Linked DNA regions of Homo sapiens. The protein of the gene in region 6 purifies or fractionates together with the protein of the main gene of each other region. This does not show direct contact. Each region holds a gene or a part of one and is shown on either strand. Other genes may lie near its edges.

Evidence for each region.
Region 1: the proteins of INSL3 (region 6) and RXFP2 purify together in Homo sapiens (affinity purification with western blotting, with the first as the bait; one study listed by BioGRID). This does not show direct contact.
Region 2: the proteins of INSL3 (region 6) and MTERF4 purify together in Homo sapiens (affinity purification with mass spectrometry; 3 studies listed by BioGRID and IntAct, with this or other methods). This does not show direct contact.
Region 3: the proteins of INSL3 (region 6) and UBAC1 purify together in Homo sapiens (affinity purification with mass spectrometry; 3 studies listed by BioGRID and IntAct, with this or other methods). This does not show direct contact.
Region 4: the proteins of INSL3 (region 6) and ARPC4-TTLL3 purify together in Homo sapiens (affinity purification with mass spectrometry, with the first as the bait; one large-scale study listed by BioGRID). This does not show direct contact.
Region 5: the proteins of INSL3 (region 6) and GAPDHS purify together in Homo sapiens (affinity purification with mass spectrometry; 3 studies listed by BioGRID and IntAct, with this or other methods). This does not show direct contact.
Region 7: the proteins of INSL3 (region 6) and FAM163A purify together in Homo sapiens (affinity purification with mass spectrometry; one large-scale study listed by BioGRID and IntAct). This does not show direct contact.

The regions. Positions count from the first base shown.
Region 1 is NC_000013.11:31,791,526-31,795,025, forward strand, and holds part of RXFP2 (relaxin receptor 2), read left to right. Parts: intron 1-280; coding exon 281-510; intron 511-1,152; coding exon 1,153-1,563; intron 1,564-3,500. UniProt on the Homo sapiens protein: Receptor for relaxin. The activity of this receptor is mediated by G proteins leading to stimulation of adenylate cyclase and an increase of cAMP. May also be a receptor for Leydig insulin-like peptide (INSL3).
Region 2 is NC_000002.12:241,095,071-241,099,287, reverse strand, and holds the end of MTERF4 (transcription termination factor 4, mitochondrial), read left to right. Parts: intron 1-1,860; coding exon 1,861-2,045; intron 2,046-2,849; coding exon 2,850-3,290; 3' UTR 3,291-3,717; downstream 3,718-4,217. UniProt on the Homo sapiens protein: Regulator of mitochondrial ribosome biogenesis and translation. Binds to mitochondrial ribosomal RNAs 16S, 12S and 7S and targets NSUN4 RNA methyltransferase to the mitochondrial large ribosomal subunit (39S).
Region 3 is NC_000009.12:135,944,374-135,947,873, reverse strand, and holds part of UBAC1 (ubiquitin-associated domain-containing protein 1), read left to right. Parts: coding exon 1-76; intron 77-1,502; coding exon 1,503-1,605; intron 1,606-1,876; coding exon 1,877-1,985; intron 1,986-2,623; coding exon 2,624-2,846; intron 2,847-3,500.
Region 4 is NC_000003.12:9,827,048-9,830,547, forward strand, and holds part of ARPC4-TTLL3 (ARPC4-TTLL3 fusion protein), read left to right. Parts: coding exon 1-193; intron 194-1,912; coding exon 1,913-2,348; intron 2,349-3,500. Other genes in the region: tubulin monoglycylase TTLL3, read left to right, coding at 1-193, 1,913-2,348.
Region 5 is NC_000019.10:35,539,956-35,543,455, reverse strand, and holds part of GAPDHS (glyceraldehyde-3-phosphate dehydrogenase, testis-specific), read right to left. Parts: intron 2,719-3,500; exon of another isoform or gene 1,872-2,718; intron 1,706-1,871; exon of another isoform or gene 1,382-1,705; intron 1,138-1,381; coding exon 1,047-1,137; intron 967-1,046; coding exon 848-966; intron 546-847; exon of another isoform or gene 512-545; coding exon 430-511; exon of another isoform or gene 183-429; intron 117-182; coding exon 1-116. UniProt on the Homo sapiens protein: May play an important role in regulating the switch between different pathways for energy production during spermiogenesis and in the spermatozoon. Required for sperm motility and male fertility.
Region 6 is NC_000019.10:17,818,720-17,822,645, forward strand, and holds the start of INSL3 (insulin-like 3 isoform 2 precursor), read right to left. Parts: upstream 2,801-3,926; 5' UTR 2,788-2,800; coding exon 2,598-2,787; intron 1,772-2,597; coding exon of another isoform or gene 1,677-1,771; intron 1-1,676. UniProt on the Homo sapiens protein: Seems to play a role in testicular function. May be a trophic hormone with a role in testicular descent in fetal life. Is a ligand for LGR8 receptor.
Region 7 is NC_000001.11:179,741,817-179,746,090, reverse strand, and holds the start of FAM163A (protein FAM163A), read right to left. Parts: upstream 2,801-4,274; 5' UTR 2,668-2,800; exon of another isoform or gene 2,525-2,667; intron 1-2,524.

The DNA.
Region 1 (3,500 bases), on a different chromosome or scaffold from region 6:
CCAGGGAACATACAGCCCCTGAGATTTCAAATTTTCATGTCCTCCCAAACTCTCCTCATCCAAGTTACTGAATTCCTATGTTCTTTAGGTTCCTCATCTTTAAAAGGATACTGCCTAGTGTTTCATGAAGAACTCTTTAATTATATAAACACTACTAAACAAAAATAAACAAACCTAGTGAAGTTGTATACCTAGCATGGAGTTGCAGCCCCGATAGGACTGCAACTGTAGGTTCTGTATCATTGCTGCAAAGTGACACTTTTTTTCCCTTTGACTTTAGTTATTTCAAAAACTTTCGATACTGCTCCTATGCTCCCCATGTCCGAATATGTATGCCCTTGACGGACGGCATTTCTTCATTTGAGGACCTCTTGGCTAACAATATCCTCAGAATATTTGTCTGGGTTATAGCTTTCATTACCTGCTTTGGAAATCTTTTTGTCATTGGCATGAGATCTTTCATTAAAGCTGAAAATACAACTCACGCTATGTCCATCAAAATCCTTTGTTGTAAGTATGTTTCCAGTATAAGTAGATTAAGGATATCTTCTGTGAGTTGTGCACTAGACATATATATGTATTTATTGGCTTTCAACAAATGGCATTTAATGTGAATTATACATCCTGGGCACATTTTTTTTTCTAAATATAAAAGTTCTGGCTCTTTGTGGCTTTGTTTTAGGTTGTATGACCTTACAGTGGCCTGCTCTCAGGAGTATGTCTTGGGAATGGGCTAATAGGCAACCAATGAGTCAAGTGACAGATTATAAAGTTTTGTGGGTGATAAAACTAATCTGAACTTCAATTACAATGATACCTATGCTCATTAGGCCTGGAAAATGATTCCCTTTATTAACTATGAAGATACTATATGTTAACTGTTTAACAACTAGTCCTTCCTCCTTCCAGAAAATTCCCATTCCGATTTTTTTAAACTACAAAATAAAAACATAGTGTAGTACTTTAGAAATATTACAGATTTTTAAGTCCACTCGCTTCTTGGTACTCAGATGTTTACATTAGTTCATTTGATATAAGATGAAAGGAACTAGATCTAATTAGAAAATTAAAATGCTGGAAATAGACTTAATCAGAAAACTAAAACAGGGACATTGGAAACTGATGACATACACTGTTTCAATTCTTCCACAGGTGCTGATTGCCTGATGGGTGTTTACTTGTTCTTTGTTGGCATTTTCGATATAAAATACCGAGGGCAGTATCAGAAGTATGCCTTGCTGTGGATGGAGAGCGTGCAGTGCCGCCTCATGGGGTTCCTGGCCATGCTGTCCACCGAAGTCTCTGTTCTGCTACTGACCTACTTGACTTTGGAGAAGTTCCTGGTCATTGTCTTCCCCTTCAGTAACATTCGACCTGGAAAACGGCAGACCTCAGTCATCCTCATTTGCATCTGGATGGCGGGATTTTTAATAGCTGTAATTCCATTTTGGAATAAGGATTATTTTGGAAACTTTTATGGGAAAAATGGAGTATGTTTCCCACTTTATTATGACCAAACAGAAGATATTGGAAGCAAAGGGTATTCTCTTGGAATTTTCCTAGGTAAATTATATTTTTTCATTTCCTGGAAAAACATAATTTTGCTAGAAATACGTTAAATTTCAGCAAAGGTGGATTTGTTTGTTTCAGAAAGTGAGATAACATAGTCAAGACTGTGTCCTTTTTCACACAAAAAAGTTTTTACTATTGTGTTTATTGAAGTTTTATTAAACTTTTTATTAGACAATATTTAGTGTGGAAAATAAAGACATACTACCAGGATCTCTGGATGATATTTTTATTATCCATAAGATCCTTTGATTTCATGTTTATATGAAATGACTATGAGCTGAAGGAATTCCAGTTTAGTGCCTCATCCTGTAAACCTACCAAGTTATTTAAACTCTTTTTTTTTTTTTTACAATCTAGTTATGAGTTAAGTAAATAATAATAAAACTCAGGAAACTGACAAGTAAGAGATATCTGAATGGAAATACCAGGAAGGTTTATTGCCTTTGTTAAATGCAGCTGTTAAGTCAGCAATGTAAGGGTGCTTAATAAAGCTCTTTCCTTTCCAGTTTTCTCAATTCCTTCTAATATTGTAAAAGAAGACTCTGTGTTCTTTAGAAATGAATGACAAATTTAGCCCTTTAAAGTTAAAAACACTTTTTTTCTATTTTCTAATATGTATCCCTCCTGCTTAGAATTAAGGCCTTTCCTATATCCTCTCTTTGGGGCGATCTTCTTTTGACTCTCTCTTCTAATCTTTTCTTCCCATCCAAGGAGCCAACAAGCTCTTCTGTCCTTTCTTTTTCTTCAAAATTTGCTTCTGCTTCTGCTCCTTCCAGTCTCTACCCACTGCTGTTGCCTTAGTTGGAAACCTTACTCCCTCAACCCTGAATTATTACCTTATCCCTTACTGGTCTCGTAACCTCTGGGACCTTCCCCTTCCTCTCATTTATCTATTCACTACCATTGTTATATTCTCTGACTATCAAAAGGACTGTGTACACCTCCACTCAGAGACCTTCAGTGGCTCCCTAGTACTATCAAGGTCAAGTTTAAATTAGTCACTTAAAACTCATCATGACATGACCCTAACCATCATGCCCAGTTCTTCTCCATTACTCCTTCTCTTCCTCCTCTGAAAAACAGAACATTTAGTTTGCACCACTTTAGTAATACCCCTCACACACTACCCTATTTGGTAGTTATTTGGTCATAGATATGTCATTCCCAGGATCCAGAGTATTACAGGCTGTTCTTTGTATTTCCTTATCATTCATTCCCTCATTACTCCTAACATAGGTGCACTTAATAGAGACTCTCCCTGAAACACACACCACACACACACACACACACACACACACACACACACACACACCATGACATGCATTGTTCAAATAGGCATTTATTCAGCACTCACTATAGGCTGTGCACTATATACTATATTAGGTACGGGAGAAACAACAGATCCAGCCTCAAAGGCCTTACAGACCACAGAGGAGGAGGCAGACAAGTCAACATGTCCTCACATCACACACAGGCTGATAAATGCCATCAAGGAAGAGTACAGAATGTTCTAGGAGCCCCAGATCTGAGTAACAGGGAAGGCTTCCCAAAAGAAATGAATTCAAACTGAGGCCCAAAGGATGAGGAGGTATTAGCCAAGCGAAGGCAGAGGAGGGTGGGGTGGGGTCTGTGTTCCAGGAAGACATAGTGGATTCCCAGGCTCAAAGCCAGGGAACAGGGTAAGATGAAGGACTGAAGAAACTCATTTGGTGGAGCATACCATGCAGGCATGGAGCTCGGCCCAAAGGAGTTAAGTATCTGGGATATATTCCAGATAGACAAAGAGATCGTCACACACACACACAAACACACACTCACAAAATCATCATCATCATCAATTTGCATATGAGAGGAAGAGTCCCAGAGCTCTAAAGTACAATTTTTTTTCTGTTTGAAGAATATAAGAATACATAATTTTTAATTAATTT
Region 2 (4,217 bases), on a different chromosome or scaffold from region 6:
GCCTGGCCAACATGGTGAAACCCTGACTCAACTAAAAATAGAAAAATTAGCTGGGCTTGGTGGCACGCACCTGTAATTCCAGCTACTTGGGAGGCTGAGGCATGAAAATCGCTTGAACCCAGGAGGCGGAGGTTGCAGTGAGCTGAGATGGCGCCACTGCACTCCAGCCTGGGTGACAGCAAGGCTGTCTCAAAAAAAAAAAAAAAGATTTTATATAGTGTGACAGGAGCCAGAGGTGGGGAAAGAGCAGCCTAAGGTGAGATGGATTAGGGGAGGTTTCTGAGTATGTCAGTGTTCCTGGAGAGGACTGTATAATTTGGCTTGGAGGTGAGGAATAGGAGTGGCTTTCTGTGCAGAATACATTTTGAGAGGGAAGGAGGAGGAGTTAAGACTAGAAGAAAAAATTGAGTGCCAGGGCAGAGACTCTTGTCTGCCTTGTTCACCGTGGGATCTTCAGCACCTAGTGCAGTGGTGGGCATATGGTATGTGTTCAGTGGGTTGATGCTGATAATGTGATGTTGATAAATATGTGTACATATAGCATTTGATGTTTAAATCAACATGAAATGGTCTTAGTGCTCTGTCTCTGTGATGTGATGTCAAACCAACATCTCTTGTAAAGACTTAGATTCTAGTCGAGTGTTTAGATTTACTCTGGAACATGAGAGATCTGGCCAGGTTCCTGGGATACTCGTGGAGTGGCCTTCCCTTCTATTTATCCCCCACTCCTGCCCCCAACAATATTCACATCTCAAGGATGCTCAAAGTTCCTTGAATCTCTTTAAGGGCCTTCTGGAGGAGTTGGGGGTCTCCAAGGACCCTTACCCACTTTGACCAGAGGAGTTCCACTATTATTTCTTTGCATTATTGACTCTTCCTGGTAAGATGTTTTTTGAGGCAGTGGTAGAAGGTTTAGGATCCACCATTTCACAGCATCTCTACAGGCCTCCTTCTCTAGAAGATAAGAAAAAGGTAGCCTTGTATATTTTTCTTAACAGATTCTTACAGTGTAATCTAAAAGTCTAAATATATTATGTGTGGTGGTGATTAATTAGCAAACTCAGCACAGCCTTAAGAAATGAAGATAAACCTAAACTGAAATTCCTCACATATTAAGATAATCACTAACTCAAATGTTAGGAAAATTTTAATTAACAGTTTAAATAGTTGACTTTAAGTTTCCCATTACTGAATTTTGCTCAGCTATCCCTAGGAAGGCCTGGAATAGTCCCAGTTTACACCAGTTAGTGCGGTTTTAATAGGGCCTCTTTCACTCAAGGTGCCCTGGCTTGGAGAAGATATATGGTGACCCTGGTAACCAGGACGTCAGCATTGGTGTTGTGTGTCCTCATGATTACTATTATTGTTATTACTGTTATGATGACGATGGTGATGGAACTCCTTTTCATTGAGTTCAGCTTGAGAATGTTAGTTGTGAATGCTTCAATGACTATTTTATTATAGAAGGAAACATCAACCCAAACCAGCAATATGGAGGAAACTACTCTCCCATATTACTCTCTGATCTTTCCAGTAAATGCCTGGGAAATTCTTTTCCAAGTGAGGAGGGCAAGAGGAGACCCAAAATACAAAGTTGGCACCTTTCAGGTGGGAGGCCAGAATAAAGCAGGAATATAGGGAGGGAAGGATGGTGAGTCTGAGGAGTGTCAGGAAGTCAGTGGGGAGATGTATCATTTCCATGGTGCTTCTGGGAAGATAGATCTGAAATTGCCACTTGCTCTGTGGAAGGAGAGGATCCTTGTTTGTTTTTAAATGTGGACTTAAATTGGGTGCAGCTAGCTCCTTGAGTTTCTGGAGTATCCTGAAATTATATGCTTGCCTTTTTTGAATGTTCTGCAGGGAAATTAAAGAGGGTGCTTTACTGTTGCCCTGAAATTTTCACCATGCGCCAGCAGGACATTAACGACACTGTCAGGCTTCTCAAGGAGAAGTGCCTTTTCACGGTACAGCAAGTCACCAAGATTTTGCACAGTTGCCCCTCTGTTCTTCGAGAGGACCTGGGTCAACTGGAATACAAGTTTCAGGTGAGAATGACTGATAGCGTGATTAGCGTAGTTTCAGGTGAGAATGACTGGTAATGGGATTAGCGTAGTTTCAGGTGAGAATGACTGGTACCGTGATTAGTGTAGTAACAGCAAGTTTCTCAGGTTTTTCAAATGTAGTGAAGGTCAGTTATATGGATAAGAAGCCTCGGACACCTCATATTTGAGTGGAGGAAGTGAAAGACTAGATTCTCTGCATACATCAGCCAAAGAGAAATCTTTAATTTCTTTACTACAGATCAAACCTATTCTTCAACTTTTCTGCCATTAATAATGAATGATCCAGTCCTATTCTTAGAGTCTAAGTGGGGACTCTGAAATAGCTAATTTTAAAATAGCTGAAACCTTCCTGTCCTTAGAATCTATTTTGCATGTTGATTTTGAAAATGTAATTTTAACAGTTGTCCGATTTTTTGGTAATAATTATGACAACTTAGGTCGAATTTCTAGATGTTTTCTGAATGTTTTGCCTATTCTTTCCATATTCATCCTTTTCCTTCCCCATTTAAAGAAAAATACCACCTCTTCCTTCTGCCCCTTCTCCCTCCTGCCCCTTTTCCCTCCCACCCCTTTATTTCCTGCTCCATGTTTCTCAGGATGAATTTGAAAGTGTTTTGAAACTGCTGGCTGTCACACAAATGTCAGTATCCTAGACTGGGTATTCGCTGTTGTCAATTAGGCAATTCTTTTTGAATCCTTTTGTACAACTTAAGTTTTTATGGTTTATAGAATGATAGGTTTCAATACTCTGTATCTGGGACTCCTAAGTGTGTTTGTGTCTTCCAGTATGCATACTTCAGGATGGGAATTAAGCATCCAGACATTGTAAAGAGTGAGTACTTGCAGTATTCACTAACCAAGATTAAGCAGAGACACATTTACCTGGAGCGCCTGGGACGGTACCAAACCCCTGATAAGAAGGGGCAGACACAGATCCCTAACCCATTGCTCAAGGACATTCTCAGAGTTTCAGAAGCTGAGTTTTTGGCCAGGACAGCCTGTACTTCTGTTGAGGAGTTTCAAGTTTTTAAGAAGCTCCTGGCTCGGGAGGAGGAGGAGTCTGAGAGCAGCACATCTGATGACAAAAGGGCAAGTCTGGATGAGGATGAGGATGACGATGATGAGGAGGACAATGATGAGGATGACAATGATGAGGATGACGATGATGAGGACGACGACGAGGCGGAGGACAATGATGAGGATGAGGACGACGACGAGGAGGAATAGCTGTGATGGAAGGACTAGAGCGAAAGGGCCCAGAGATATCAAGGAAGCTTTTCATTCTCTTAAAGCTTTTGGGTCCTTTACTTGAATCTTCTCAAGTTATTTTTTATTCTAAAACTGGTCTCTTGATGAAAAAAATTATAAGTCACCTGAGAGGCAGACAGATCAAACCAAACAGGAAACAGGAAATGCATGTTTGATCTGTTGTCACGTGTCTGTGGGGAGGGCCCTGTCCCATCCTGAATAAGATACTTATGTTGAGCTATTCACATCAAGGGGACTCAATATATCAACAATTGGTTTTATTTTTTTCTCTTTTGAATATGTTGGTGATAATTCCGTGACAGTTGGAAGATGGGGTTCATTCTTCCGGTTCAGGAATCACTATGTATTTCCTTCTTGTGATAAAAATAAAATTACGAGAAGGCAATGTGAGGTTTTAGTACATCATAGCACTTTATTTTATGAAAACATGTAGCAGATTTTCCACAAAAATGCTTATTTTTAATCCAAAAGTATATTGCTTCATAATGGTATTCAGTGCACAGCAGAGTAAAAGAAGTTAATTCATGATGTACTGGTTAATTTTGCATGGCTTCTTAAGGCCAGCAAAATGCTGGCAGTTTTCTTTATCTTTGTGAAGAACAGGCCCTTCCTGTTTGGGGAAGTTGGCTTTTATGTCAGCTCTTGGCCAGTGGTCACTTCCAAGCCTGGTGTCTCCGGCCCTGTAGTCTGTAGTGCCAGACTGTGCTGGCCTGGAGAGTGCTGGGGCAGGTGGAGGCCAGGGAATGGTCCCATACAGTTATCTCCCCTGCCCTGGTTACAGACAGCTTCGAGAACCAGAGGAGAAGAGCATAGGGTCATGGAGCAGGTGGGCTGAAGCCAGGGCCACAGGGAGCAATCCGTGACCCCCCAAGGTGGGTGTGGGGG
Region 3 (3,500 bases), on a different chromosome or scaffold from region 6:
GGCCATACTGCGGGCCACCGCCAACCTGCCCTCCTACAACATGGACCGGGCCGCGGTCCAGACCAACATGAGAGACGTGAGTGTCAGCCCAGAGCGGCGGCGGGTGCATGGGGTCCCCGTGTGGGGGATTGCTGTGGGGGGGTTCCTGCGGGGCGGGGCAGCAAGAGGAGATTCTCTGGGAGGATTTGGGGAAGCCGGTGAGCGGGTCTGTAGGACTGCACTATTTTGCATTTTTTCTGTAAATCAAAAATTATTTCCAAGTAAGAGTTGGAAAGCCATCTGAAGGCAGGATTGAAAAGATAGATACCCCTGGGAAAACGTCAATCCGGCCCTGAGTTTGGCAAAACGTTTAGATAGAATTCTGAACCCGAAGCGGGTGGATCACCTGAGGTCAGAAGTTCGAGACCAGCCTGGCCAACATGATGAAACTCCGTCTCTACTAAAAATACCAAAAATTAGCCGGGCGTAGTGGCAGGCACCTGTAATCCCAGCTATTCAGGAGGCTGAGACAGGAGAATCACTTGAACCCGGGAGGCGGAGGTTGCAGTAAGCCGAGATTGCATCATCGTACTCCAGCCTCGGCAGCAAGAGCGAAACTCCGTCTCAAGAAAAAAAAAAACACACAAATCTGAACCCGTGAGTTATTTTGGGTCAGAACATTCTAAGTTAAAAAAGAAAAGTGTTTGCAGTGCTCACGTGGACGCCGCAGCAGGCAGGGCAGGCACGTGCTGTGCCGGGGTGGGAGGACGGCTGGCTTCCAACTTCATCTGATGCCAGTCCAACCTAAGGGCACTGCTATAAGCCCTGTTTCATTTTAGGAATGAACCTCTTGGGGTGTCTTCCAGAGAGTTCTGTGCTGACCAGGGCATGGTGGCTTTTCCCCAGCAGCCAGCATGTGTGTCTCCCATCCTGTGTGTGTCCGGCTCAGAGGTATTTCTCTAGTGTGGTGTCCGCACCAAGGCTCACACTTGTGTGAGAGTAGGGACAGCTGACGCCTGACCTCTAGGCCCTGTAGCCAGGAGCTGTTCTGGAGGGCATCTCCGGTCCATCCCACGGCTCCTCCTGCCTGGGGAGGACAGTGATGGCCGCCGCAGACGCTGTGTGGCAGCCATGCCTCCACTGGGGGCTGGCAGACTCATGGGGGTGGAGCCTCAGATGATTCTGTTTTCTTCAGTGAAGCCAGAGAGGGTCTTCAGCTTGCCCTGCACCTGCGCCAGCTGGGCCGACGGTTTCCTCACAGGGCACAGGCTGAGTATCGGGCCAGCACTGAGTGACCGTCACCAGGCGTTCCTGTCCCTTTCCACTGGCTTCAGTCCCACCTGCAGGGAGGCTCTTGGCCCTGCCAATCCCCTGCCTTGCCCTCAGCTGATCCTGCTGTCTTGCAAGAAAGCAATGTCATCTCAACTCTCAGAATCAAGAGTTCTAGGACAGGGGAGCAAGTCATAGATCCAAGTAGGTTTGGTGGACATTTAGAGAATTGATCTCCTTTTTTTTCACCACAGTTCCAGACAGAACTCCGGAAGATACTGGTGTCTCTCATCGAGGTGGCGCAGAAGCTGTTAGCGCTGAACCCAGATGCAGTGGAATTGTTTAAGAAGGCGAATGGTATGAGTCAACCCCGATGCTGCATTCCAGGGCGGTTCACTGCCGGCCTTGGGGAGCGTCTGCAGCTCCACGCACTGACCACTGACCGGAACCTCAGTGCTTTATGGAAGCGCTGATGAGGGCCTGGGGCCTGCCTCACCGGCAACTCCTGTTGATGTGCCTGAGGGCGGGCAGGTGGAGCTCAGACAGATAATTGCTGCAAATGTTTGTGCTCAGATAAGGCCCCTGAACCTGAGGCTGGAGCCCTCATGGCCCTGTCGTCTCCCTGCAGCAATGCTGGACGAGGACGAGGATGAGCGTGTGGACGAGGCTGCCCTGCGGCAGCTCACGGAGATGGGCTTTCCGGAGAACAGAGCCACCAAGGCCCTTCAGCTGAACCAGTGCGTGGGGGGCCACCTCCTTCCCTTGCCGGAGACACCTGGGGCCTGGTTTTGTGGGGCTCCCACCGTGGGTGACGTCCTCCTACCCTAAACTCTTTGACTGAATCATTTCTAACGTGGGGTTTTGAAGAGGTACCTTAAATATGTGCCTCCAAAGTGTTTTTGGGGTGAATGTGACAGAACAGTCGTTGTGTAAATTCTCTTTGGGCCGTTGTATGAGAACTCAAGGTGAATCCCGTTCGTAGCAGGGACACGGCCTCTAACAGTCTTCTCAGGATTCCCGTGTGAGTTACTTGCCCTGCTTCTGTGTTCAGATCTAAAATGAATAATCCGAGATCCAGGGGCAGCCGGGGGCAGTTCCCCCTGTGGTCCCTATCTAAGCCCTCAGCAGATATCTCTGGGTCCGCTTGCCTCTCCTTAGACATGGGCTTCTGATTCTGCCCAGGGTCTCAAGGTAGTCTGAGGCAAGGACCAGCGCTTCCGTCGCACCTGTGTTCATTCAGGTTCTTGTTATAAGGGTCACCAGCTGATGCTGGAGAAGTCACTACCATAGCAGAGGCTCTTCTTGGGAATGGACAGGAGGCGAAGGCCCTGGTCCGTTAGTCTGGGGATGTTGGAAAGAGTCTCTTGCCTTGCAGCATGTCGGTGCCTCAGGCCATGGAGTGGCTAATTGAACACGCAGAAGACCCGACCATAGACACGCCTCTTCCTGGCCAAGCTCCCCCAGAGGCCGAGGGGGCCACAGCAGCTGCCTCCGAGGCTGCCGCGGGAGCCAGCGCCACCGATGAGGAGGCCAGAGATGAGCTGACGGAAATCTTCAAGAAGATCCGGAGGAAAAGGGAGTTTCGGGCTGATGCTCGGGTATGTGTTACTAGACCTGTCGCCAGGCAGAGTCGCTGTGTCTTCCCTTGAGGTGGCGCCATGGAAAGGAAGCTGGGGCTGCATGGCTGACCTTGGGCTGAGCTGGCTCCTGTCCCAGGAGAGAGAGAAGCTGGGGAAGGGGTTTACAGGTGGGCCTGGGAAATGGCGAGCCTGGGGGCGGTGGGCCTGGGGACCGTGGCCCGAGTTTCTGAGCACACCTGTAAGTTATCCTGGCTTGAATCCAGGCGCCCCAGTTTCCTCTGTGTTGCCACATTCGTCACCTTTTGAAAAACTTGATATTTTACAGTTCCTTCTGACCACTCATCCACAAGCCCCCCCTGTTCGGCAGCCTCTCTGCGGGGTGGGGGCCCTGCCCAGAGACCGGGAGGGTCATTTGCCGTCGGGGGTGTCCATGAGCGAGGGGCCGCTCAGGCTGCCAGCCGCCTCCATGGCACAGTCTGCAGGGCTGAAGGGTCCCTGCGCCTGTGTGTGTGGACCTTCCTCGCCCGCGCCTCATCTCCCCATTCTTCCTTCTCTCTCCTGTTCTTTGATTCGGGTTTTACTTCCTCCTTGGAGGTTTCTGTCTGTCTCCGACATGCTCAGATGGCAGATCTGCTCCATCTGCATGCTGTCGTCTCGTGTGGCACTGATCGT
Region 4 (3,500 bases), on a different chromosome or scaffold from region 6:
ACCCCGTGGTGATGAAGGACGGCAAGTGGGTGGTGCAGAAGTATATTGAGCGGCCCCTCCTCATCTTTGGCACCAAGTTTGACCTCAGACAGTGGTTCCTGGTAACTGACTGGAACCCACTTACCGTGTGGTTCTACCGCGACAGCTATATCCGCTTTTCCACGCAGCCCTTCTCCCTGAAGAACCTGGACAAGTGAGCCCCTCTGCTCGCCTCCCACGAGCTCCCTGCCTAGTTGGGGAGCTGGCAAGCAAACAGGCGATTACAGTGCAGGGGACTCGCGCAGCAGCGCTAGGCTCCACACACAGACTGCAGGCAGGCAGGCCCTCATCCTGCCAGCTGTCCTTGCATCCAACAGATTTTTTTTTAACAGACAGGGGGCGGTCTCACTCTGTTACCTAGGCTGGAGTGCAGTGGCATGGTCACGGCTCACTGTAGCCTTGACTTCCTGTGCTCAAGCAATCCTTCCTCCTCAGCCTCCCAAGTGTCTGAGACCACAGGCATGTACCACAGCTGATTTTTAAGTTTTTTAATGTAGACATGGGGTCTCACTATGTTGCCCAGGTTGGTCTCAAACTCCTGGGCTCAAGCGATCATCCCACCTTGGCTTCCCAAAGTGCTGGGATTACACTATGCCTGGCCCCTCCAACAGATTTGACCGAGTGTGTACCTTGTGCCATGCACTGTTCTGGGCACTTGGGGTATAGCAGTGAACAAAACAAGATCCCAGCTCTCAAGGGCTTACATTCTAGCAGGGAGAAACAGGCAAGCAAGAACACAAGTGAAATTATCTAACAGGTTAAAAGATTATTTGGGCCAGGCGCAGTGGCTCATGCCTGTAATCCAAGCACTTTGGGAGGCCGAGGTGGGTGGATCACCTGAGGTCAGGAGTTCGAGACCAGCCTGACCAATATAGCGAAACCCCGTCTCTACTAAAAATATAAAAATTAGCCGGGCGTGTTGGCGGGCGCCAGTAGTCCCAGCTACTCGGGAGGCCGTGACAGGAGAATTGCTTGAACCTGGGAGGTGGAGGTTGCAGTGAACTGAGATCGTGCCATTGCACTCCAGCCTGGGTGACAGATCAAGGATCTGTCTCAAAAAAAAAAAAAAAAAAAAAGATTATATTTGTCGTTGGGGGAAAAAGGGAAGCAAATGTAGAGCAGGGGAAAGGAGGTCAGGAGTTTTGAAAACTAAGATGTCGTGTTAACTTCTAGGGTGAGAGAAAGCCTTGTTAAAGCCTGAATTCCAATTCTGTCTCTGCAGCTTCCAAGTTGTTTGAATCTGGTCATGTGAAAACCTATTTAAGCCTTGGTTTCCACATCTGAAGAATGGAGGCAGTAGTATGAAATTCATAGCTATCAATTATTGAGTGCTTCATATGTGATAGTGCTGAGCACTTTGTATACATGATCTCATTCTTAATAAGAACCCAGTGCATACTTCTTGTTCACCAGGTCTGAAGAAAAATATAAAAAACAGTGAAGTGGGTACTGTTACTACCCCCATTTTGCAGATGTGAAGAGCACACAGGTTAGATGACTTCCCTAAGGTCTCACAACTAGTGTGGAGATGGCGCTTGAACACGTCCTGGCGATGACGGGGCCATACCCTTACCCACCCTCTTATCTTCCAGACACTGGGATGGTTAACTGAGACTATGCACAAAGCACTTACTACTGCGGCCCCCGTAACTAGCGCCCTCAGAGCAGCCCTGAGAGATAAGAGTGGTTCTGGCCCTAGAAGAATGTGGTGGGGCCCAGGCCTCTGTCCTTTTTGTCCTTCCCAGTAGGGCCCCATCTCAAGTTGAATAGTGCAGGGTGGCCCAGGGCTGCTTCCAGGACTTGCCTGTCCTCCCTGAGTTTGGATGGGAGAGACACAAGGGCCTGGACCTCAGTTTTCTGTTCTCTGCCCCAGCTCAGTGCACCTGTGCAACAACTCCATCCAGAAGCACCTGGAGAACTCATGCCATCGGCATCCACTGCTTCCGCCAGACAACATGTGGTCTAGCCAGAGGTTCCAGGCCCACCTGCAGGAGATGGGTGCCCCAAATGCTTGGTCCACCATCATCGTGCCTGGCATGAAGGATGCTGTGATCCACGCACTTCAGACCTCCCAGGACACCGTGCAGTGTCGGAAGGCCAGCTTTGAGCTCTATGGCGCTGACTTCGTGTTCGGGGAGGACTTCCAGCCCTGGCTGATTGAGATCAACGCCAGCCCCACGATGGCACCCTCCACAGCAGTCACTGCCCGGCTCTGTGCTGGCGTGCAAGCTGACACCCTGCGCGTGGTCATTGACCGGATGCTGGACCGCAACTGTGACACAGGAGCCTTTGAGCTCATCTATAAGCAGGTGAGGAGGTTGGGCCCAGGCAGGACCCCAGAGAGTCTGCACCCTCTTCCAGGCAGCCCTGCAGTGGAGCATAGGACTCTGCAGTCAGACCCAGTTTAAGACCCAGATTCAAGTCCTGGTCCTGCTAAGGTGACCTCACTTCCTTGAGCCTCAGTTTCCTGATCTTTGAAATGGGGATATTATTACCATCTTTCTCATGGGAATGGGAGAATAAAATGAATTCATGTATGAGGATAATATTTCTAGAGAGGCATATAGCATAGCCATAAGAGCAGAGATTCTGGAATCTCCTTGGGTTCAAATTCCTGTTCAGTGACAACAAGCTATGTGACTTTGGACAAGTTCCTAACCCCTAGGTCTCCTTGTCCGTAAGAATAAAAATAGTACCTAACTCACAAAGTTAGGTACTATGAGTTGTGAGAATTAAATGAGTTGATAAGTAAAGTACTTCATTTATTTATTTTTGAGACAGAGTCTCGCTCTGTTGCCCAGGCTGGAGTGCAGTGGCATGATCTTGGCTCACTGCAACCTCTACCTCCTGGGTTCAAGCGATTCTCCTGCCTCAGCCTCCCAAGTAGTTGGGATTACAGGTGCCTACCACCACGCCTGGCTAATTTTTGTATTTTTAGTAGATACAGGGTTTTGCCATGTTGGCCAGGCTGGTCTCGAGCTCCTGACCTCAGGTGATCCGCCCACCTCGGCCTCCCAAAGTGCTGGGATTACAGGCAGAAGCCACCGTGCCCAGCCAGTAAAGTACTTTAGAATAGTGCCTGGCACGTAGTAAATGCTACTAAGTTTTAGCTAATGTTATTATTACCTAATAAGGTTAGGAGTTTCATCATGTATAACCTGTAAAGTGCCTGAATGTATAGTAATAGGCAATTACTGGTAGCTACTATTATTAGTAGTATTATAATTATTTCACTCGTCTTGCTCCAAAAAGAGATTGGAGTCTACTTGTAAAATAGAACAGCATTTTAAAAAATCAGTCAGAAAATTGATTGCAAGGCTTTCTGAGTTCTGGATAGAATTTCTTGTGGCAGTTTAAGTGGCTTCTGATTAGCCTCCGGTTTCTGTCAAGGTTTGGTTACAGGAAGAGAACGTACTGATCACATGACCTAAGTGACCTCGCCTTTGTTACAGTTGTTATTG
Region 5 (3,500 bases), about 18 Mb from region 6:
GCAGCCCCAGTGGAGGCTGGGATGATGTTCTGGTGGGCACCCCGCCCATCTCGCCAGGCCTTCCTTGATGGCCCGTCCACTGTCTTCTGGGTGGCCGTGTAGGAATGGACTGTGGTCTTGGGGAAGAGAAGGACCAAGATGAGGCCTTCATGCTCCTAAGCTCCCATGCCTCTTTTTTCCAGGACTAAGTTGGTGGCCTAGGTGTGGAGGCTGGTGGGGCCACCACCACAGACCACAGGAGGGGATGTGTGCAGGCCAGGGTCCAGCCTTGCCTGAGGGTTGCACAGTGTTTTAAGTGACTTCTGCACTGGTGGGCCTCTCCTCCCGAAACCAGTCTCTCCCTCTTAACTCCATACAGTAAGCAAGGCCCGGGAAGAAGTTGGGTTTCCCTGCCATCCTTCCTGCCCCAGCCCCTCATCCTCAACTCACCATCAACCCTTCCACGATCCCAAATCGCTCGTGGATGACTTTGGCGAGGGGAGCCAAACAGTTGGTGGTGCAGGACGCGTTGCTGAAACAGCCAAGGTGTGCACGGACACTGTGAGGTGAGTCGCAGAGCCACCCCTCCACCCTTACCCCTCTTGGGGTATGCACGCAGACTTGGTTTTATGAAACGTCAGGATGAGGGTGAGAGGGATCTGTGGGGACACTGTCAGACTGAAGGAGGCACTGAGGTGCAGCTGGGGAGGCTCCCCAAGCTTGTCCTCTGGAAGTCATGCGTTTTTAGCAGATAGTTTCGGGAAGGAGAAGCAGAAGCCAAGCGACCAGGAATCCAGTGGGGCTGAGGGTGGGGAGGACGAGTCTACCCTCCCTTCCACACATTGCAGGATGTCACTGCCCACATTACCTCACAATGTTCATGGAGCCAGGGTTATAGTCATTTTCATTGACACCCATGACGAACATTGGTGCATCCGGTGAGGGCGCGGAGATGACCACACGTTGAGCACCTGCAGAGATGTGGTCCTGGGGAGGAAGCGCAGGTGTCAGGGGCTTCTGGCACCATCATCCCCCCAGCTAGCCCTGGGCACCTCTCCCCAGCTTACCGAAGCTGCCTGTATGGAGAGGTACACGCCTGTGGACTCCACCACGTAGGGGCTCCCGACAGCCCTCCAGGGGATCTGTTTGGGCTCTTTGCTGTGGGGAAGTGGCAGGGCTGAGTCAGTCTCCCCTGCTTGAGCCCCACCTTCATAGTCCATGGCTTTCACCATTTGACAGGCTGAGCAGGTACCGGCCCACCTGCAACCACCTGCGTCCCCTACCCCACACACCTACTTGTTCCAGATGGGCTCCACCCCGCTGGCCTAGCTTTTCACCACTGCCCCACTTCAGACCACTTTCCCTTTGCTGATTGCACCACCCCTGTTATGCCTGGGTACAGGTGGTGACCTCCCCAACTCAGCCCTCAACCTCCTCAGAGGCGCCAATGCTGACTGCTGTCAGCCAGCCCAGACCCTTTCTCCATATGCTGCCCGGGACGTGGACTCTGTGACTGTGAGGCCTGCCCGGCTGCTTTCTGCTTCCCAGCTCTGACAACCTCGCCATGAACCCTCCTAGACCCTCAGCTCCTGCAATAGGAAGCTGGCTGCCAAAGGCCAGGAGGGTCCCTGAAAACAGACACTGCATTAAAGAAAAAGCTCCTGGAGGACTCCTGAAGCCTGAGGCAGCCTTGGGGCAGCAGTGGCTCATGGTTTACATTGGAAAGGTAAGGGAGGTTTCTGGTTTCCTGTTTTATAAATTTATGTTTTTACTTGGTATTTTGACAAACATTTGTATTTGAAGCACACTAAACATCTAGTATTGCCGTTTTCTACTTGGCTTTAGCAAACAAGCATTAAGTGAATAAACTGTTCCACTTTCTTCCTTCCCAGGTTTATCATGAGTAACCGGGTGCTTTGCTTCTGTGATTCTTGGCCAGTGTCGGTCTGTTTCCTTTGCCATTGAGCCTGCTCCCCTCAATGGGGGGTTCAATCAATGTTTGTGGGGTTTGTTTGTTTTGAGACAGGGTCTTCCTCTGTCGCCCAGGCTGGAGTGCAGTGGTGCAATCAGAGCTCACTGCAGCCTTGATCTTCCTGGCTCCGGCCATCCTCCTGCCTTGGCCTCCCGAGTAGCTGGGACTACAGGCGCACACCACCATGCCAAGCTAATTTTTAAATTTTTTTGTAGAGATGGGGTCTCACTTTTGTTGCCCAGGGTGCTTTAGAACCCCTGGGCTCAAGTGATCCTTGACCTCCCACAGTGCTGGGATTACAGGTGTGAGCCACCGTGCCTGGCCTCATGGGTTTTCTTTGTTTTGTTTTGTTTTGTTTTTGAGACAGAGTCTCACTCTGTCACTCAGGCTGGAGTGCAGTGGCACGATTTTGGCTCACTGCAACCTCCACCTTCCGGGTTCAAGCGATTCTCCTGCCTCCGCCTCCCGAGTAGTTGGGGTTACAGGCATGCGCTACCACACCTGGCTAGTTTTTTATTGTTGTTGTTTTTTGTATTTTTAGTGGTGACGGGGTTTGCTCTGTTGGCCAGGCTGGTCTCAAACTCCTGACCTCAGGTGATCCCCACTTCAGCCTCCCAAAGTGCTGGGATGACAGGCATGAGCCTCTGCACCTGGCCTCGTGTTTTTTTTTTAGTTAGCCATTTTATACGTGTTTACTGAACACCTGTCCTGTGCCCATATTCTAAGTGCCTTACCTGCATTAAACTCATGTAACCTTCACAACCCGATGAGGAAGTGCTACCGCTGTCATTTTTTGCATTTTTTTACTGCTGTCAGGGCAGAGGGGAGGGGAGTGAGAGGGAGAGCCTGCTGGAGTGCAGGTGGCTGGTCCCACCTCGGGTCTGCACTCCTGTTTCCACTGCCTGAATGAATGAATGAATGGGCTGCCCTGCAAAGCCATCACACATGCATGGTTATCCTCTTCCTGTCTCCTGCTCTGTCAGTCCACTTTCCATCATCTGGCCCAACGAGCTCTTCTCAGATACCCCCCATTTCCTGCCTTCCAAATTAGGGACACTTGCGATTCCTCTGCAACAATTGCTGAGTTGGCCTGAGGCAAAGACTGTGCCCCCAGAAGACCCCAGGCCCTCCCCAAGGCTGTCATGGGCCCCAGCCTCCTGCCCACCAGGCTGTTTTGAGGATTCCATTCATTCATTCAAAGGAAGTTCTGAATGGCTATCAGGGCCTGTACCTGCTAATGCCAGAGCAACAGTGGTGGTACCAGTTGACAGAGCCCTCCGTGCAAGGCCATGGCCTTGTGGGAAGTGCCCGTTTAAGTGTCCACAAACACATGTTCACTCCATTCGTGCTCCCAGCTACCGCTGTGGTGGGTTTGCTCATCATCCCCATCAGATACAGCGGGGAACTGAGGCTCAGGCAAGTTTGGTTCCTTGCCCAAGGTCACCCAGCTAGCTAGCGGAGGTGCAGGGCAGAGTGCAGGCACACAGCCTGGCTTGTGCAGCCCAACAGTGCGGGGATGGAGAGGGGGCTGGAGGGGCGGGGAACTGCA
Region 6 (3,926 bases):
TTCCAGGGGATACTTGTCTGGGGACAGTTTTAGATGTCACAACTTGGATGGGGTGTGAGGCTATTCATGGCATTAGGGGGCAGAAGACAGAGATGTTATCTAACACCCTACAATATACAGGACAGCCCCACTACCATATACATCCCCAAATGTCAGCATCAGCTTTTTTTTTTTGAGATGGAGTCTCGCTCTGTTGCCAAGCTGGAGTGCAGTGGCGTGATCTTGGCTCACTGCAACCTCCACCTCCCGGGTTCAAGTGATTCTCCTGCCTCAGCCTCCTGAGTAGCTGAGACTACAGGTGTGCGCCACAACGCCCGGCTAATTTTTGTATTTTTAGTAGAGACGAGGTTTCGCCACGTTGGCCAGGCTGGTCTCACCAGCCTGAGAGTAGCTAGTCACAGCTACTCAGGAGGCTGAGGTGGGCAGATTGCTTGAGTCTGGGAGGCAGAGGTTGCAATGAGCCGAGATCACGCCACTGCACTCCAGCCTGGGTGATAGAGTGAGACCCTGTCTCAAAATATATATATATAATAATAATAATATTAATATTTTTCCCTTTTTTGAGACAAGGGTCTCTGTCTCAGGCTGAGTCTCATATTGCCCAGGTTGGTCTCAAACTCCTGGCCTCAAGTGATCTTCCCTCCTAGCCTCCTGAGTAGCAGGGATTACAGGCATGAGCCACCACATCCAGCAAGGTAAGTATTTTAATGCAATACTTTTAAAATAAAATTTAAAATATTTGTAAAAAGGCCAGGCACAGCGGCTCACGCTTGTAATCCCAACACTTTGGGAGGCTGAGGCGGGCAGATCACCTGAGGTCAGGAGTTCAAGACCAGCCTGGCCCGGGCACAGTGGCTCATGCCTGTAATCCCAGCCCTTTGGGAGGCCGAGGCAGGTGGATCACGAGATCAGGAGATTGAGACCATCCTTGCTAACATGGTGAAACCCCATCTCTACTAAAAATACAAAAAATTTAGCTGGGCTTGGTGGCAGGCGCCTGCAGTCCCAGCTACTCAGGAGGCTGAGGCAGGAGAATGGCGTGAAGCCGGGAGACGGAGCTTGCAGTGAGCCGAGATCACACCACTGCACTCCAGCCTGGGGGACAGAGCGAGACTCAATGTCAAAACAAAACAAAACAAAACAAAACAAGACCAGACTGGCCAACATGGTGAAACCTGTTGTTTCACCTGTTCACCTGTCTCTACTAAAAATACAAAAAAAAAAAAAAATCAGCTGTGCATGGTAGTGGGTGACCTGGGGAGTGGCCTGTAATCCCAGCTACTTGGAAGGCTGAGGCAGGAGAATTGCTTGAACTCAGGAGGCGGAGGTTGCAGTGAGCTGAGATCGTGCCACTGCACTTCAGCCCGGGTGACAGAGCGAGACTCCATCTCAAACAAACAAACAAAATACAAAAATTAGCCAGGTGTGGTGGTGCGTGCCCGCAGTCCCAGCTACTCTGGAGGCTGAGGCAGGAAAATTGCTGGAACCCGGGAGGCAGAGGTTGCAGTGAGACGAGATCACGTCACAGCACTCTGGTTTGGGTGACAGAGCGAGGCTATGTCTCAAAATAAATAAATAAAAATAAAATAATAAAATAAAGTAACATAATTGTGAAAAGCAATACTTTTCAAAAGCAATACTTTTAAATACTTTTAAAGCTGGACACAGTGACTCACATCGCTAATCCCAACACTTTGGAAGGTCAAGGTGGGAGGATTACTTGAGCTCAGGAGTTTGAGACCAGCCTGGGAAACAGAGTGAGACTCCCTCTCTACGAAAAAGAAAAAAAAATTAGCTGGGTGTGGTGGCAGCACCTGTATCCCAGCCACTCCAGAGGCTGAGGCAGGAGGATGGTTTGAGCCCAGGAGGTTGAGCCTGCAGTGAGCCGAGATCTCACCACTGCACTCCAGCCTGGGCGTCAGAGTGAGACCCTGTCTCAAAAAACAAACAAACAAAGCAAAATTAAGGCAAAAATTCATGAAGATCAAAATATTGAAATTTTAAGACAGGATCTCACCATGTACTTGCAAGAGCCTACCTCTCCTGCCTCACTCTGTTTCTGGCCCCTCAGGGGGACTCATGCTCTGAGGACTTTCTTTTTTTTTTTTTTTTGAGACGGAGTTTCACTCTGTCGCCCAGGCTGGAGTGCAATGGCATGATATCGGCCCACTGCAACCTCTGCCTTCCGGGTTCAAGCGATTCTCCTGCCTTGGCCTCCCAAGTAGCTGGGATTACAGATGTGCATCATTATCCCCGGCTAATTTTTTTAAAAATTATTTTTAGTAGAGATGGGGTTTCACCATTTTGGCCAGGCTGGTCTCGAACTCCTGACCTCTGGGGATCCACCCGCCTCAGCCTCCCAAAGTGCTGGGATTGCAGGCGTGAGCCACCACGCCTGGCTAACGGCTCTGGGGACTTTCACACGCGCGTTCACACACACTCCAGTGCGGACCCACGATCTGTGCACGCAGCCGGCAGGTGAGCCCTGGGCACATGCATGCAAACCTGCCCACCTCCCTGCACGTGTGCATCTGCGCCTACGTGCACCTGCCCCACCTCGGCTTCCCAGAGCGCTGTCCCTGCCCGTCCCCACTCACGGTCGCCTCCGGTCGCAGGCCTCCTGGCTTCGGTGGACCAGCGGGGGCCCCCGCACACGCGCACTAGCGCGCGTACGAAGTGGTGGCCGCACAACTTCTCACGCATCTCTGGGGTGGGCGCGGGGCCCAACGCGAACACCAGGGCAGGGCCCAGCAGCACCAGCGCCCAGGCGGGCAGACGGGGGTCCATGGTGGTGGGTGGCGCCGGGGCCAAGCGGGGACCCCCTTTATAGGCGCCTGGGCCGTCCCAGCTGGGGGCCTTGGAGAAGGGACAGAACATTCTTCAGGACCGCCCAGGAAAAAGGTCAAGGGTGGGGTTAGTGCCAGAGCCTTTCTCCCAGGGCCAGGGCCTTGGATGTACTTCTCCCAGAGGGAGCACTGGGCAACGAGTCTTTCTTTTTTATTTTTTTCTTCTTTTTTTTTGAGATGGAGTCTCACTCTGTCACCCAGGTTGGAGTGCAGTGACTTGATCTCGGCTCACTGCAACTTCTGACACCCGGGTTCAAGCGATTCTCCTGCCTCAGCCTCCTGAGTAGCTGGGATTACAGGTGCGCACCACTATGCCTGGCTAATTTTTTTTTTTTTATTTTTTATTTTTAGTAGAGACTGGGGTTCGCCATGTTGGCCAGGCTGGTCTCCAACTCCTGACCTCAAGCGATCCATCTGCCTCGGCCTCCCAAAATGCTGGGATTACAGGCATGAGCTGTGCCTGGACTATTATTATTTTTATTATTATTATTGAGACAAAGTCTTGCTCTGTCTTCCAGGCTGGAGTGCAGTGATGCGATCTCGGCTCACTGCAACCTCCACCTCCTGGGTTCAAGTGATTCTCCCACCTCAGCCTCCCAAGTAGCTGGGATTACAGGTGTAAGCCACCACGCCCAGCCACCTATTTTTATTTTTTATTTTTGAGATGAGTTCTTGCTCTGTTACCCTGGCTGGAGTGCAGTGGCACGATATGGGCTCACTGCCACCTCCCTATCCCTGACTCAAGCAATTCTCCCACCTCAGCCTCCTGAGTAGCTGGGACTACAGGCCCACGCCACCACACCCGGCTAATTTTTTGTATTTTTTTTGTAGAGATGGGGTTTTGCCATGTTGCCCAGGCTGGTCTCAAACTCCTGGACTCAAGTCATCTTCCCGCCTCAGCCTCCCAAAGTCCTGGGATCACAGGCGAGAGCGACCACACCAGGGTATTTATTCATTTTTGACATAGGATCTCTCTGGGTTGGCCTGTAATGGCAGGATCATAGCTCACTGTAACCTCATTCCCCTGGGCTCAAGCGATCCTTCAGCCTCTGCCTCCTGAGTAGCTGGGACTACAGGCCT
Region 7 (4,274 bases), on a different chromosome or scaffold from region 6:
GTTGAAAGATTTGTACTTAATAAGAAATTAGTCCTTTGTGTAGGAGTTAAACCCTTGAGTGACAGAGAGAAGGAAGTGCTGGCTGTTTACCAGGCCAGCACTTTCTGAAGTCTAGAGTCTAATGGGGTTATAAATATCTCTTGGATCTACAAGTAAGAGTCTTTATTCACGACAATTCTGGATTTCCAGCTACCACATGTGTGTCTGTTCTTAATTGGAAGAAAGTGGCCCCGAGGAAGGAGTAGTGACTTTGGAACCAAAGAGACCTGGGCTTCAAGCTCTGCTCTGCCATTAACTAGCTTTATGATCTTGGCAAATCGTTTACCCTACCCCCAAACTCAGTTTCATCACACGAAAAATGGGGAAATAATAGTAATTTTGCAAAACCTTGTGTCTGGCACATAGCAGGTACTTAATAAATGTTAGCAACTTTCATTAATGTTAATAATCACCAGGCCAGATTCTAAACCCCAGGGCACTTTTCACAATGGACAGACCCTGGAATGGCCCTACCAGAGTCAAATGACTTTTTTGTTAAGTGGCCACCCAGAAGATTCCCAACTTCTCCTCTCATCCACCTCAGCCTTGTAAAGTTTGCAGATCAGGAAAATCCCAGCGTGGGCCTCTGGGTGAGGACTGGACTGTGCTGGGGCCAGGCTCCCCTGTTACCAGCTGATGTTTGCACTCAGGCTGAAGCACTCCCTGAACTAAGCCGGGGTCATTTCCAGTTACAGACGGCAAGCTAGAGAAAAAACAGAGATTCTTGGGCCAAACAGGGGGACCTGCTCTCATCTGCACGAGCCCATCTCACCTTGCCTTTCCAGAACAGTATGCCTGATGAGGTCACTGAATGCAGATCTCTAGCCCTGGCAGGGCCGCTGCCGATCTGCCTGATGCCCCAGCAGGACCCTCCGAGAGCCACACATTACTTCCCCTCTGGACGCCAGCATGACCCTGTCTGTACCTGCTGGTTTAGATTCTCTTAGGCATGGGAACTGAAACCTCCCTAGAGAAGGCTAAGAAAATCTGTTTTCAGAGCATGTACCTTTACTGTTCCTTCCCCGGGGTCCACCTCTTTCAGGGTCTGAACGTCTGTTACATGCAAGTATTTCATTAGGGCAGAAGGAAAGCTGCCTTTCCCCTCAGGACACAGACTCCAGCGAATCTTAGGCAAAGCGAACATGCGGGATTGAAGCCCGCAGTTATTGTTTGTCTCCCACACGACATAAAACATGTGTCTGGCTCAGCTGCTAGAGGACCAAGCAGGACACAGACGCAACTGCGCAGACGTCGGTCCTGCCAGCCACGCTGCGGCCCCCTCGGAATCTCAGGATGGGGCCCCCTGGGCGCCCTGGGGGAGGGCCCAGGTGGGCGAAATGACAGGAGAAAGTGCCTGCGGGCCTCCGCCTGCAGGTTGGATGACTGCGTCCCCGTCACGTCAAACTTGCCAGGACTAGCAAACTTCCAGGGCCCCACAGTTCCACTCAGAGGAAAGGAACCCCCAGTGTGACAGGAAAACACGGCTGGTGTGTGTCGGCCAAAGGGCGCTGACCGAGGGAACAGATCTGCACCCCTGACTTCCCTCGCGGCCTTCGGAGCCGCAGAGAACCAGGATGCCACCCACCCAGGGCCCCGGCGCGCGGCTCTCGGCCTCTACCCGCCCCACCCAGGCCAGGCCGGGTGGCGGGGTCCCAGCAGCCCAATGCGGGCCTCGTCCCCACACTGCCTTCTGCTTGCCCGCTCTGCTCTCTGCTTGGCCAGGCCCCCCTCTGGGCCGCGGGGCGGAGGCTTCCGTGTGGCCGGCGCCTTGAGCGCGCAGGGCCCTCTGGAATCGGAGTGCGGTCGCCCGCTCTGGGGCCTCGGGAGCAAGGACACCGCGGCCCCACGGGCACGTCCGGCTTCTCCGTCCTACCCCCGCTGTCCTGGCCCCAGACTCGCTGGCCGAGACGCCGGCTCCCACAGGCCCTGCCGCCTGCATGCCCACGCCGCGCCGCGAAGGCACTTCGCCCTCTTTATTTTGTAAAACTTCGGAAAAATCACCAGCAAACCGAGCCCCGGTCTCAAGGCTGCCCACAGTTGCCGGCACGAATCCGGACTCACTGACCGACGGCGGCGCATTGGCCCAGCAGACCCCGCCGGTCGGCCCCCACCCTACCCGGGTCCCCTGCCCCGGCCTCATGCTCCCCGGGTGGCGGCGGGCGCGAGGCGCAGCAGCAGCAGCGGCGTCCGCGTGAGGTCCGGCCCGGCTGAAAGCGCAGAGAAGCGGGTCGCTGCAGACACGCTGAGTAGAGCGCCTTCGGCACGGCCCGGGGGCAGGGACCCGGCAAGTCCGGCCCCGAGGCGCGAGCACCGCCACCCGCGGTCTGGCCACGAGGCCGGAGATGCCCCCGAGTCGCCGCGCCCCTCGGAGCGAGAGGCCCCTGGCGCGGAGAGGGAGAGCCAGGGCGCAGACCCAGACCCAGTGGGGAACTGCTACGCTGAAGGCGGCGCGGTGGGCAGAGGGAGGCAGCCGGGGCGCGCTTACCCGGGTGTTGAGGCGCCCTCGAAAGTACGCGGTGGCCAGACACATCCCCGCGCGGAGCCCGAGCCCGGCGGCTCCTCAGCCCGCCCGCGCCCCGCCCCGCCCCTCCGCTCGCTCCCCTGCACGATGAGGCCCCGACCCGTTACCGCGGCTGAGCAGCTCCGCTCGGGCAGCGACTCCCGCGTTCGGCTCCCACGGGGTCGCAGCGCGTCCTTCCGGGCGCCAGCGGCTGGGGCGGCACACGTGAGGCTCCGCGGCCTCCCCGGCGCTCCGAGGACTGCCCTGCTCCGGGCGTGGAGCCTCATCGCCCCTCCAGGTGGCCAGGGCTGGGGGCAGGTACCGCGCGACCTGATTGGCGCTGGCCGGAGTCCGGGGAGAATCCCCCGCCAGAGAGGCTGATGCACGCGGGCCAAGTGAAGCCACGCAGTCAAACAGCGCAACGGGCGCCTTCCAAACACCCCTGCTTAGCTCCGCTGCCTTTTTGCCTAAGAAATGTAAACGCGGGAGGCGGGCGCCCTGGGAACGCCTCAGTACAGGGGACTTTGCGCCCTACAGATCGGGTCCAGGACGGAAAATTCGGAGAGCATGAGAATCTTAGGGACCAGGGTGTGTCGCTATCCACTGGAAAGAGACTGCCTCGAGAGCCTCCCGAAGGGCTCCTCTGTGTTCCTATTTCCGGCCCGCACTGTGCCCTGGAAATCCAGGGACACCTGGATGTCCCCGCCGCTGAGGGGTACCCGGGCCTCGTGGCAGGGCGGGATCAGATCAGTCAGGGTGTGATTAGAGCTGTGACGGTGAAGTCTGGCAGGAAGAGGCAGGAAGGGAGAGAAGCAATGCCTCGACACGAGGAGAAACCTGAATGGTGCGCTAGATTTCTTGTCTGAAATCACCTTCTTTTAATGTCTTAAAACTCTAGGAGTTGCTTATGTGCTGTAGCCCAGCCAATAAGTTCTGACATCAGTAATTCAGAGGGTCTGCTGAGAGAACATGACGGCCTGAGAGGGGATAAGCTGTCACTTCTCCGCACTTCCGAAGCATCTCTATATGGAACGTTTACCTGTTCCGGTCTGATCATCTTTCTCTTGATCCTGCTTTCCGATCTTGATTGGACTGAAGACAGCGAGGACAGAGGGGTGGGGTCAACCCGGTTAATGCTCGAGGAGGGAGCGTTCCCACTACATCAACAGTTTTCCTCTCTTCTTAGGCAGGTTAGTTCTGGGGATTCAAGGCAAAGGTGATCAGGGAATCCATTTGAAAAACAAAAACAGAAAACTCCAAAACATTTAAAAACTGTGGACCCTCAGCCTAGGTCCAACTTCTAAAGAAGGGGAGTAAGAAATTTAGCACCTGGAGCAACCTTATTATTCCTAATACACTGTTAAAAAACAAAAATCCCAAGGCAAGCCACCACCTCATCATTCCAGCAAGTCTACTGTTGTTGCAGCACACTCCACTTTTTACTCTAACTCTACTCACAGGTTTTACATTTTGAGCTCAGATTTTCATGTGCCGTCTTTTCTCAGCACAGTTAAGGCTCGTGCCTACATTCTTCCTCATCTCAAAGGCAAAACAATGAAATATGAAGAGGACGTGTGATTTTGTTATAAACTGTAACACAGAAAAGTGAAAACAACGTACCTTCATAGCCTAATGAATCATAAACCAAACACCACCCAGGTCATTGCTACCACCCCAGAGGTTCCCCTGCTCCACCAATTCCCTTCCACAAGTCCTTCCCTTCCCCCTAAAGCAA